Linked DNA regions of Homo sapiens: region 2 is linked to region 1. Evidence: fine-mapped expression QTL. A gene starts in region 1. The other region holds a variant in brackets. All regions are shown on one strand. Distances are between the middles of the regions. Region 1 holds the start of SUCLG2 (succinate-CoA ligase GDP-forming subunit beta). Region 2 overlaps SUCLG2 (succinate-CoA ligase GDP-forming subunit beta).

Region 1 (4,394 bases):
GAAAGGGAAATAATCTTGGGACTCCCAAATCACTAAGGTAAAGGGAAAAGTTAAGGTGGGAACTGCTTAGGGCAAACCTGCCTCCCATTCTATTCAAAGTCATCCCTCTGCTCACAGAGATAGACGCACAGCTGATTGCTTCCTTTGGAAAGGCCAATCAGAAACCCAAAAGAATGCAACCCTTTGTGTCTTATCTACCCATAACCTAGAAGCCCCTCCTTGCTTCCAGTTGTCTCGCTTTTCTGGACCAAACCAATGTACATTTTACATATATTGATGTCTCATATCTCCCTAAAATGTATAAAACCAAGCTGTGTCCTCCACCACACCTTGGGCACATGTCAGGACCTCCTGAGGCTGTGTCACAGGCACGTGTCCTTAACTGTGGCCAAATAAACTTCTTAAATTGATTGAGACCTGTGTCAGGTATTTGGGGTTCACAGCTCCAAATGAATGTTGCTTTTATCACTCTGATTACTGGGCTTAAAATCCTCCAATAGCTTTGTGTCCGGAATTGGTTCCTTCCCGTGGGTTCTTAATCGTCTCGCTGACTTCCAGAATGAAACTGCAGACCCTCGCGGTAAAGATGGCGTGACCAGAATTTGTTCCTGCAGATGTTCAAATGTATCTGGGGTTTCTTCCTTCCGGTGGGTTCGTGGTCTCGCTGACTTCAGGAGTGAAGCCGCAGACTTCACAGTGAGTGTTACAGCTCTTAAAGGTGGCCCGTCCGGAGTTGTTTGTTCCTGCCTGTGGGTTCGTGGTCTCGCTGACTTCACGAATGAAGCTGCAGACCTTTGCAGTGAGTGTTACAGCCCTCGAAGGTGGGGCATACGGAGTTGTTCATTCCTCCCAGTGGGTTCGCAGTCTCCCTGACCTCAGGAGTGAAACTGCAAACCTTTGTGGTGAGTGTTATAGCTCATAAGGATAGTGCGGACCCAAACAGTGAACAGCAGCAAGAGCTACTGCAAAAAGCAAAAGCACAAAGCAACCACAACCTGGAAGGAGACCCCAACTAGGGGCCACTACTGGCGCCGGTGTCCAGCTTTTATTCCCTTATTTGGCCCCACCCTCATCCTGCTGATTGGTCCATTTTACAGAGTGCCAATTGGTCCATTTTACAGAGTGCTGATTGGTCCCTTTTTAAAGAGTGCTGATTGGTGCATTTACAAACGTTTAGCTAGACACAGAGCGCTGATTGGTGCGTTTTTACAGAGTGCCGATTGGTGTGTTTACAAACCTTTAGCCAGACACAGAGCACTGATTGGTGCATTTACAATCCTTTAGCTAACAGAAAAGTTCTCCAAGTCCCCACCTGATTAGCTAGACACAGAGGGCTGGCTGGTGTATTTACAAACCTTTAGCTAGACACAGAGCGCTGATTGGTGCATTTACAATCATTTAGCTAGACAGAGAAGTTCTCCAAGTCCCCAACCGACCCACCCGGCTTCATCTCTCAGCTTTACATTGATTTTAGGTTAAGGATAGAACAAAACAAAACACCCACAACTCCTTAAGGGATGGAGAGCCTCCAATGGCCTCTCCTTGACTCACCTGAAGCCCTGGGCTGCAGGAACCTCACCTGTCTCTATTCGTTAAAGTCTCAGCTCAAACACCACTGTCCCAGATAGGCCTCGTGACCGCAGGACTAGACCACGGTTCTCTGCGGAGGGCGTCAGCTCCGTGAGCCACCCTTCCAGCACCCACTGCCATGGCGAATATTTGCTTGTTTGGCCATCCAGGGACTGTTTGAGCCCCAAGACCGCAGGGCTCGGGGTCTGTCTTTGCTCAGGACGATAACCTGGGGACTGGACAGTAGGCCCTCAGGCCTTGGGACCGCTCAAAGTGAACCGGGGCCGGGTGGGGGACCCAGGGCTCTGCAGCCTTAAGAACGCCTGTGCCCCCGGGACGCAGGGGTCAGGCCCGGCCCGGCCCAGACCGCCTCTGCCTCCTCCTCCTTTTCCTCCCCGCGCCCGCTTCTCCTCTGACCCCTCCTCCCGCTGCTCCTCCTCCGCCTCCTTCCCCTGCCCGCGCCCGCCCTACTGCCCCGTGCCGAGTTTCCTGTTTAAGATGGCGTCCCCCGTAGCAGCGCAGGCCGGGAAGCTTCTGCGAGCCCTAGCGCTGCGGCCCCGCTTCCTGGCGGCCGGGTCCCAGGTGAGCGTGGGGGCAGGAGCTGCGGGCGCCAGCAGCGGCGCCGGCCTGCCCGGGCTTCCCTCGCCCCCTGCTACTCTTGGTCTCCGCCTGACCCCCTGCGCGGCCCCTCGGGCGCCCCACTTCGGGAGGTGACGCGGCGCCGGGTCCAGGCGCAGCAGGGAACCCCGCTCCAGTGTGGGGCAGGGGCGGCGCGGCGGCAGCCCCGGGTGCCTCGGGGTATGAGCGACCCAACGCACTAGAGTCTCCGCTGTCTGCCCGCGCAGACTCATGGCGAAGGCGCTGAAGCAGGCGCTGGACGCAAGTTTAAGAAAAGTTTCTTGGACCGGGTTTTGGAGCCCTGAGGTTTTATTGTCAGCTCTACTAATTCTGCTTTTCAAACTTCTGGCACTAACCCTGAGCACGTTTAGACCACGTGATAAACATGCCTGGAAACCCGTTTCAGCCCAACTAGGAACTCACCCCCTAGGGTGAACTTCCTGCAGGCTACCTGCTTTTGCAGACTTTTAATGTGCCTGAGTTGGTCAAATCCGTGGGTCAAGGAGAAAAATGGGAAACGATCTTTCTCCTCTTTCCAATGAAAAATCAGGGCTGTCACTAAAACGCATTAGACCATTGACCCTGTCCATGTCCTCCTTGTTGATGGAGAATGAAATCAAAGAGGGTCAGTGGTGGGCTGGATAGCGATTGGAACTTGGCCTCTAGCAGATTTTTACCTTCTGCAGATGGCAAGCGTTAAAATAGTCAGAAGGACTTCAGGAAAGTTTTGAGTTGGTGATGACTCTTGTAGAAATCACTCAACCACTGAACTGGTTAGTCTCCGTAGACTATCTCTCTTCCCTTTTAAAGAAAGCACAGTCTGGGATTCAGCCACAGCAGAGTTAATGACCTTGCCTATTTCCCCATTTTTAATTGATGAGAGGCAAATTATCACTCATACAATTTTAACCAGGATGTGCATAGTATAGTTTTTTAGAAAATTTAAAAAATAGTGATTAATGATTTTTTGAGTTCCTCTAAACTTTGGTTATGACATCTGTGAGCTATTTTTACCCCTCTCCTTTCATTTCCTGCCTCCCCATTTCTCTGTTATTGTTAATGTAAATTTAAAAGGTGCTAATACTTACTACTGTAATATTCTTAATAGGTGCTTGACAGTATAGTGAGGTAGCAAAAGGAATGGCAGTTTTGTCTAATTAAAACTCACTAATAACTGTTGTAATAGAGTAAGGAGAATAGCTCTAGGAGATGAAGTCCTATTCATTATTTAAGTGTTAGAAAAAACAAGAACTAGGGTGCTTACCATGAGTGTAGACTTGAATTGATGAGAAACATGGGGCCCAGGGCAGTGAAAACTCATGAATTGTACAGAGAAACTGAAAATGCAGAGTGTTTAGCTGAAATATGTGAAGCCTACTTCCCTAACCAAGAAATAAGAGGCTGAACGCAACACAGGAGAAAATCTGGTTGGGGAGAGATACTCTTGGTTTGTCAAGAAAACTGGGTAAAAAGATCTGTTAGCACGCCCCATCTGGTTACTGTGATTTACATATTTGTGGATGATGTGTTTTTCTGTAAATTCTTAGAAGGTAAAAGTAGGTTTTTTTAAAGATAGAAAGGTACACAGTGTCCAAGAACTGGAAATGGACATTAGCAATCATTTAGTCCAGCCAGCTCATTTCATGGGTAGAGAAATTGAGGCCTAAAGAAGTTCAATGACATATTCAACGATACAGTGAGAGTTTGTGGCATTCCAGAGTAAAGGCTTACCTTTACGTTTCCGTTACACCATGCTGTTTCCTGGTGAGTATATACTTCCTCATGAAAATATATTATATCAACATGCAAATTAATCTGCATGCCAGTAGTAACTATATAACATCCAAGTCATTAGCACCACTGACACATTTTTATTTTTTTCTTTATGACCATCTTAGAATTGTCCATAAAAATGGTGAGTATTGCTATTTTCAAATTCTTGGGTGCTTCCTATGATCTGTTTCATGTACACTGATTTGATATTACGTTTCCATAGTCCCTTGCCCGTGGCAGACATTGCAGTTAAACATGGCCCACTTCTCTCATCATACTTAAGAATCCTCACCAAGTGTCTCAGAAATCTGTTGCCACTCTTGGCCCAGACCTATTTTATACCACCAGGCCTTGTGAAAAACTGTTGTCTGTACAGAAATAAAAGACCCAGTTTCTGCTTAGAGAAATAACTTTAACTGGTCTCTCAAAGATAC
Region 2 (4,394 bases), 280 kb after region 1:
TTATAATTACAGAGAACAGTTCAAGTCCCATCTCTGACACTTACCGCCTCTGTGACCATGGAAAAGTTATTTAACTTCTCTGTGCCTCAGTTGCCTTATCTGTAAAATAGGAACAATAGGACTACTCATAGTTTTTGTAAAGATTTCATATGCTGTGTATAAGTTACTTAGCACTGTGCCTGGCATACATAAGCACTTAATGATATTAGTTCTTGGGAAGATTACGAGGATGATAGTGCTCTGTATGGAAACAAAAGTTAAGGCTCAAAGAAGTTAAACGATTTACCCAAAACTACATAACAAGTACATGGCAGAGCCAGCATGGAGATTTTAGGTAGCAGCTTCCCACATTTTATGCTTTCACCTTCCAGAGAGGACTTTCACCAGCTTCCTCTGTAAAAACAGGAGTAGGTGAGCCTTAAGGTGAAGACACAGTGCCAAGCGGCCATCTTCACTGCTGCTTGGGTAGACCCAGGGTCCCAGGGGAATCAGTGCTGCATCATCTTTTCAATCCACCCATTTCTATTTAATCCAGCATTTGCCTCTTTATATGAAATGTGCTGACCCAGTGCCTCTTTTTATCTGCACTCTTTGTGGTAAGGCAAGTTCTCCAAGGCCTATATTTCAAGGTCTTTGTTTATAAATAGGCTCTGTCTTGCCAACTAGATAAAAGCACAGGAAATGATGTAGGATGAGATATTTCATTAGACACTTAAATTCTATTACATTTCTCCTACAGGAGTTGTTCACTCTAAAATGGCAGAAAAGCAGTTCTCATGTTAAATAGTCCCCAAGCACACCTTTGAATGAAGTGACTTGGCCAGAAGATACTCCAGATCCACCAGGAACAGTCAAGAGATTGCCATCAGAGGCTGCTTTGCCCGTTTTGAAGGGCTCAGCCCATTTCATTTTATAGAGTGAGGAGAAGGCAGAAATGGACATGCTGGATGCGCCAGAGTCTCCAAAGCAGTGGATTTGTGGACATAGCTGGGCAGATTCTCGGAACTTCCTTTCTCAAATCAGGTCACAGCCCAAACCCCTGATGACGTCTGAGAGGGCTTTAAGACAAGTGACTTCTGGTGTGGGCCAAAACCGCATTAAATCCACATGGCTGTGATTATCAGCAGACAACTCAGCTTCCATCAGTAAAATATGTTCATTTCCCTCTTGCAAGCCCTTGCTTTCATCTTCTTTTCTAGCTGGACCACAGCTTGAGATAAATTTCATCACATAATCTTTTCTGTCAGTGACCTTGATGAGAACCTATATTTAATTCATTTCCTAGTGAAAAGCTGTAGACAGGTGAGTCTTGTGTGTCCTTGTGCAAACTTCATAAGGCGCCACCTCTAGTTTCATTCAGTGATTGTTCCCTGTCCCCCTTCTAGGAACCAACGTCCAAGAGGCCCAGAAGATACTCAACAACAGCGGACTCCCCATTACTTCAGCCATTGACCTGGAGGATGCAGCCAAGAAGGCTGTGGCCAGTGTGGCCAAGAAGTGATGTCTTTGTCCTGATCCAATGGAGAAAGAAAGCCATTTTTCCGTAAAAAGGGATGGTTCATCATTGTGAAAGAAATGGTTATCTCATTGGGGAAGAAAAGGGGAGGGGGAAGGCAAGAATCACTGAAAAATCTTAAATCTGTGTTTTCTGGAATAAGATATCTAGACAGCCTAAATCTGATTTTGGTCTTTATAAAAATAATAT[C/A]TTGTGTTCTCATACTTTTCTGTCACTGTAAGCCTGCCCAGTAGGCAGTGTTTTGCAGACTTTGGGGAGTGGTCTATGTGGCCAAATATTGTGTGTATAGACAGAATTTGAAATCAAGTCCTGCTTCATTTACAAGAATTTTGGTGGGCATCTAATCCTACATAATGAAAAAGAAAAACAGACCATTTAAAAACTCAGACAAGATTATATTTAATATATTAATTACTAAAAAGGCATAAGATTACACTGAACATATTAGCTACTAAAAAGGCACTGCTAAGACATTCAAGCAAATAGCTATTACACACTACTGCAGATTTTACAGGTTTCTAATTCTAACATATGTTTGAAAAATCCGTGAGTATTCCAAAATATATTTAATAATGGAATATCTGCATTAATATACCATCCATGTGTTTTTACCATTTGCCTTAATATTGAATATACTGTTTACCTCACACTAAAAAGAAAACCAGAAGCCTTATTTGTGATTTTGGGAGTGGAAGCTTCCATTTTTGTGTCAAAAATGAATCCTGATTCTTATGGAAATCTCTGTTATTAAGATATTTCAAGATGAGACAACACTGAAGATCAAATTGTGTTTAGTATCACTATCTTCTCTCCTCGTTTCTCTCTTACTCCTCATCCTCCCAGAATCTACCAGTTTATGGTAGAAAGATGGGAACCTTATTTGAATGTGTTTTTTTTTTCCATGATGTCCAATTTTGTTGTGGGAAAGGATTTGGATAAAATTTTTGTTTAAATTTTGGTAGATTTTTATCTATACAAATTTAAATAAAATTATGTTTTGTAAGCTGTAAGATCTGTGTGTATCTCTCATTTTACTCAATTTTATTCCTCAAACATTTTTTTTTTTTACAAAGACACTAGTCTTAGTGTCTTAGGTATGCCTCTAAAATTTGATAATTTGGGTCATTCCAGGATTATTCCAGTTCCACTCAACTTTATCAGATACCCATTTCTGTGTTAGGAGATTATTGAATCCATAAAAGTTATACACAAACCAGAACCCCAGGAATGTATCTCAGATGTCTGACAGGTTGAACTGTGATGTCAGTCTGCGTAACGCAAAGGGAGATACTCCAGTATAACTCATTCCATTAAGTGAGGCTCAATTGCCACCATTAATTTTCCTTTCAGTGTATAAATATGTAGTAGACCAAACTATTTTGTTTGTTTTTTTTACCAGCTTACTTTGTTCTCATAAATTTTATGTGTGGACAAAAGTATGAAAGTCATTATTGTTTAGAGCCATGTTTGCCATGGAGAAATAAACTATTGGATAGATCAGTCTTACATCCTTTCTTAATGCCCATGCAATGAATGAAGAATATTAACAATGTCTTCTTAGTTGTGTTTTGGTTTTTGATAGCTTAATCACTAGTTGGTGCAGTAAAAAAAATAACCTATATTATGTCAACTAGACAACATTTTTAAATTTTTGATCTCTGAAGAGGACTATGTTTGAATCACTTGTAAATATTGATGTTTCCAGTCAACCCAATTTGGAGGAGGGGATAAAGCAATTAAATCATTTTTGTGATTATTTCATAAAAGGGTTAATAACAAGGAAATAGCCTTTTATTTTCAAATAAGCTCAAAGCCATCAGAGCTTGTTCTTTTTGCATCCTTAGCGTAGCTTGTCTCTAATTGTTTTATTCTCAGGCAGGCCATTTTTACAGGTGGATAATGGCTGCTGGCCATTACATGTGAGGTTCTCAAATTTAGCATCCTCAGAAGAGAAAGAGAGAGGGAGCAGAGGGAAAGAGAAAATAAATGAGCAAATAAACGAAAGAAAGAGGGAGGAAGGAGAGAGGAAGGAAAGAAGCTTCTCTTGGTAATTCTAAGACACCTCCCAAAATTGAATATGACTCCAGTGATCAGTTTCAGGTCAGTAACCTATTCCTGAATCTGGCCCCGGTTCATTTACAATAATTTTTGTGGTCTTCTATACAATAAATATAGGCCATAAAAAACTCAGACAAGTTTACATTTAACATATTAACTACCTGATATGGTTTGGCTGTGTCCCCACCCAAAATCTCATCTTGAGTTGTAATCAGTGTTTTTGATTGTTTTGGCTTTGAGCTTATTTGAAAATAAAAGGCTATTTGCTTGTTATTAATCCTTTTATGAAATAATCACATAAATGATTTAATTGCTTTATCCCCTCCTCCAAGAATTAAATTACAATTCTTCTACATTTTATTTTCATGTCTCTTCCTCTCAGTTTTCTCTCTGAGGAAAAAAAAAATGTCATTAAGAATTATATTGTTTTTTAAGTGCAAAGCCTTGATAAAAATTAGAAGGAATATTATTTTTTCACATTACTAAAGTAAATATTTGAATGTTTGATTGTGATCATTTGTAGAATACACTATATGTTCAAAATTAAAATAAGCGAGAAAATATATATCATAGTGGGGAAGGAAACAATGTGGGGAAGTGAAAAGGATATGTTCTTTCATATTTTTCTAGATCTGGAGTTGGCAAACTAAGGCCCAAGGGCCTATTTTAGTAAATTAAGTTTTATTGTCACAGACACACCCATTTGTGTGCATGTTGTCTGTGGCTACTTTCATGCTACACAGCAGAGCTGAGTAGTTGTGATAGAAACCTTATGACCCTAAAATATTTCCTCTTTGGCCCTTTACATAAAAGGTTTGCC

Evidence for each region. PIP is the estimated chance that this variant, and not a neighbour inherited with it, causes the effect.
Region 2: its variant is fine-mapped to the expression of SUCLG2 in whole blood (TOPMed, PIP 0.97). The same link has a PIP of 0.9 or more in esophagus mucosa.

Annotation. Positions count from the first base shown.
Region 1 is chr3:67,652,260-67,656,653 of GRCh38, reverse strand. SUCLG2 (succinate-CoA ligase GDP-forming subunit beta) reads left to right here and starts at 2,042. Exons shown (of 11, transcript NM_003848.4): 1 at 2,042-2,151. The coding sequence starts at 2,068. SUCLG2-DT (SUCLG2 divergent transcript) reads right to left here and starts at 1,957. Exons shown (of 7, transcript NR_109992.1): 1 at 1,552-1,957. RefSeq lists an enhancer at 1,736-2,235 and a silencer at 1,751-2,430.
Region 2 is chr3:67,372,851-67,377,244 of GRCh38, reverse strand. SUCLG2 (succinate-CoA ligase GDP-forming subunit beta) reads left to right here. Exons shown (of 11, transcript NM_003848.4): 11 at 1,386-2,526. The coding sequence ends at 1,501. Among named protein-coding and RNA genes, the nearest start is that of MIR4272, 150 kb to the right of the region's middle. The variant C/A (reference allele first, on the strand shown) is at 1,706.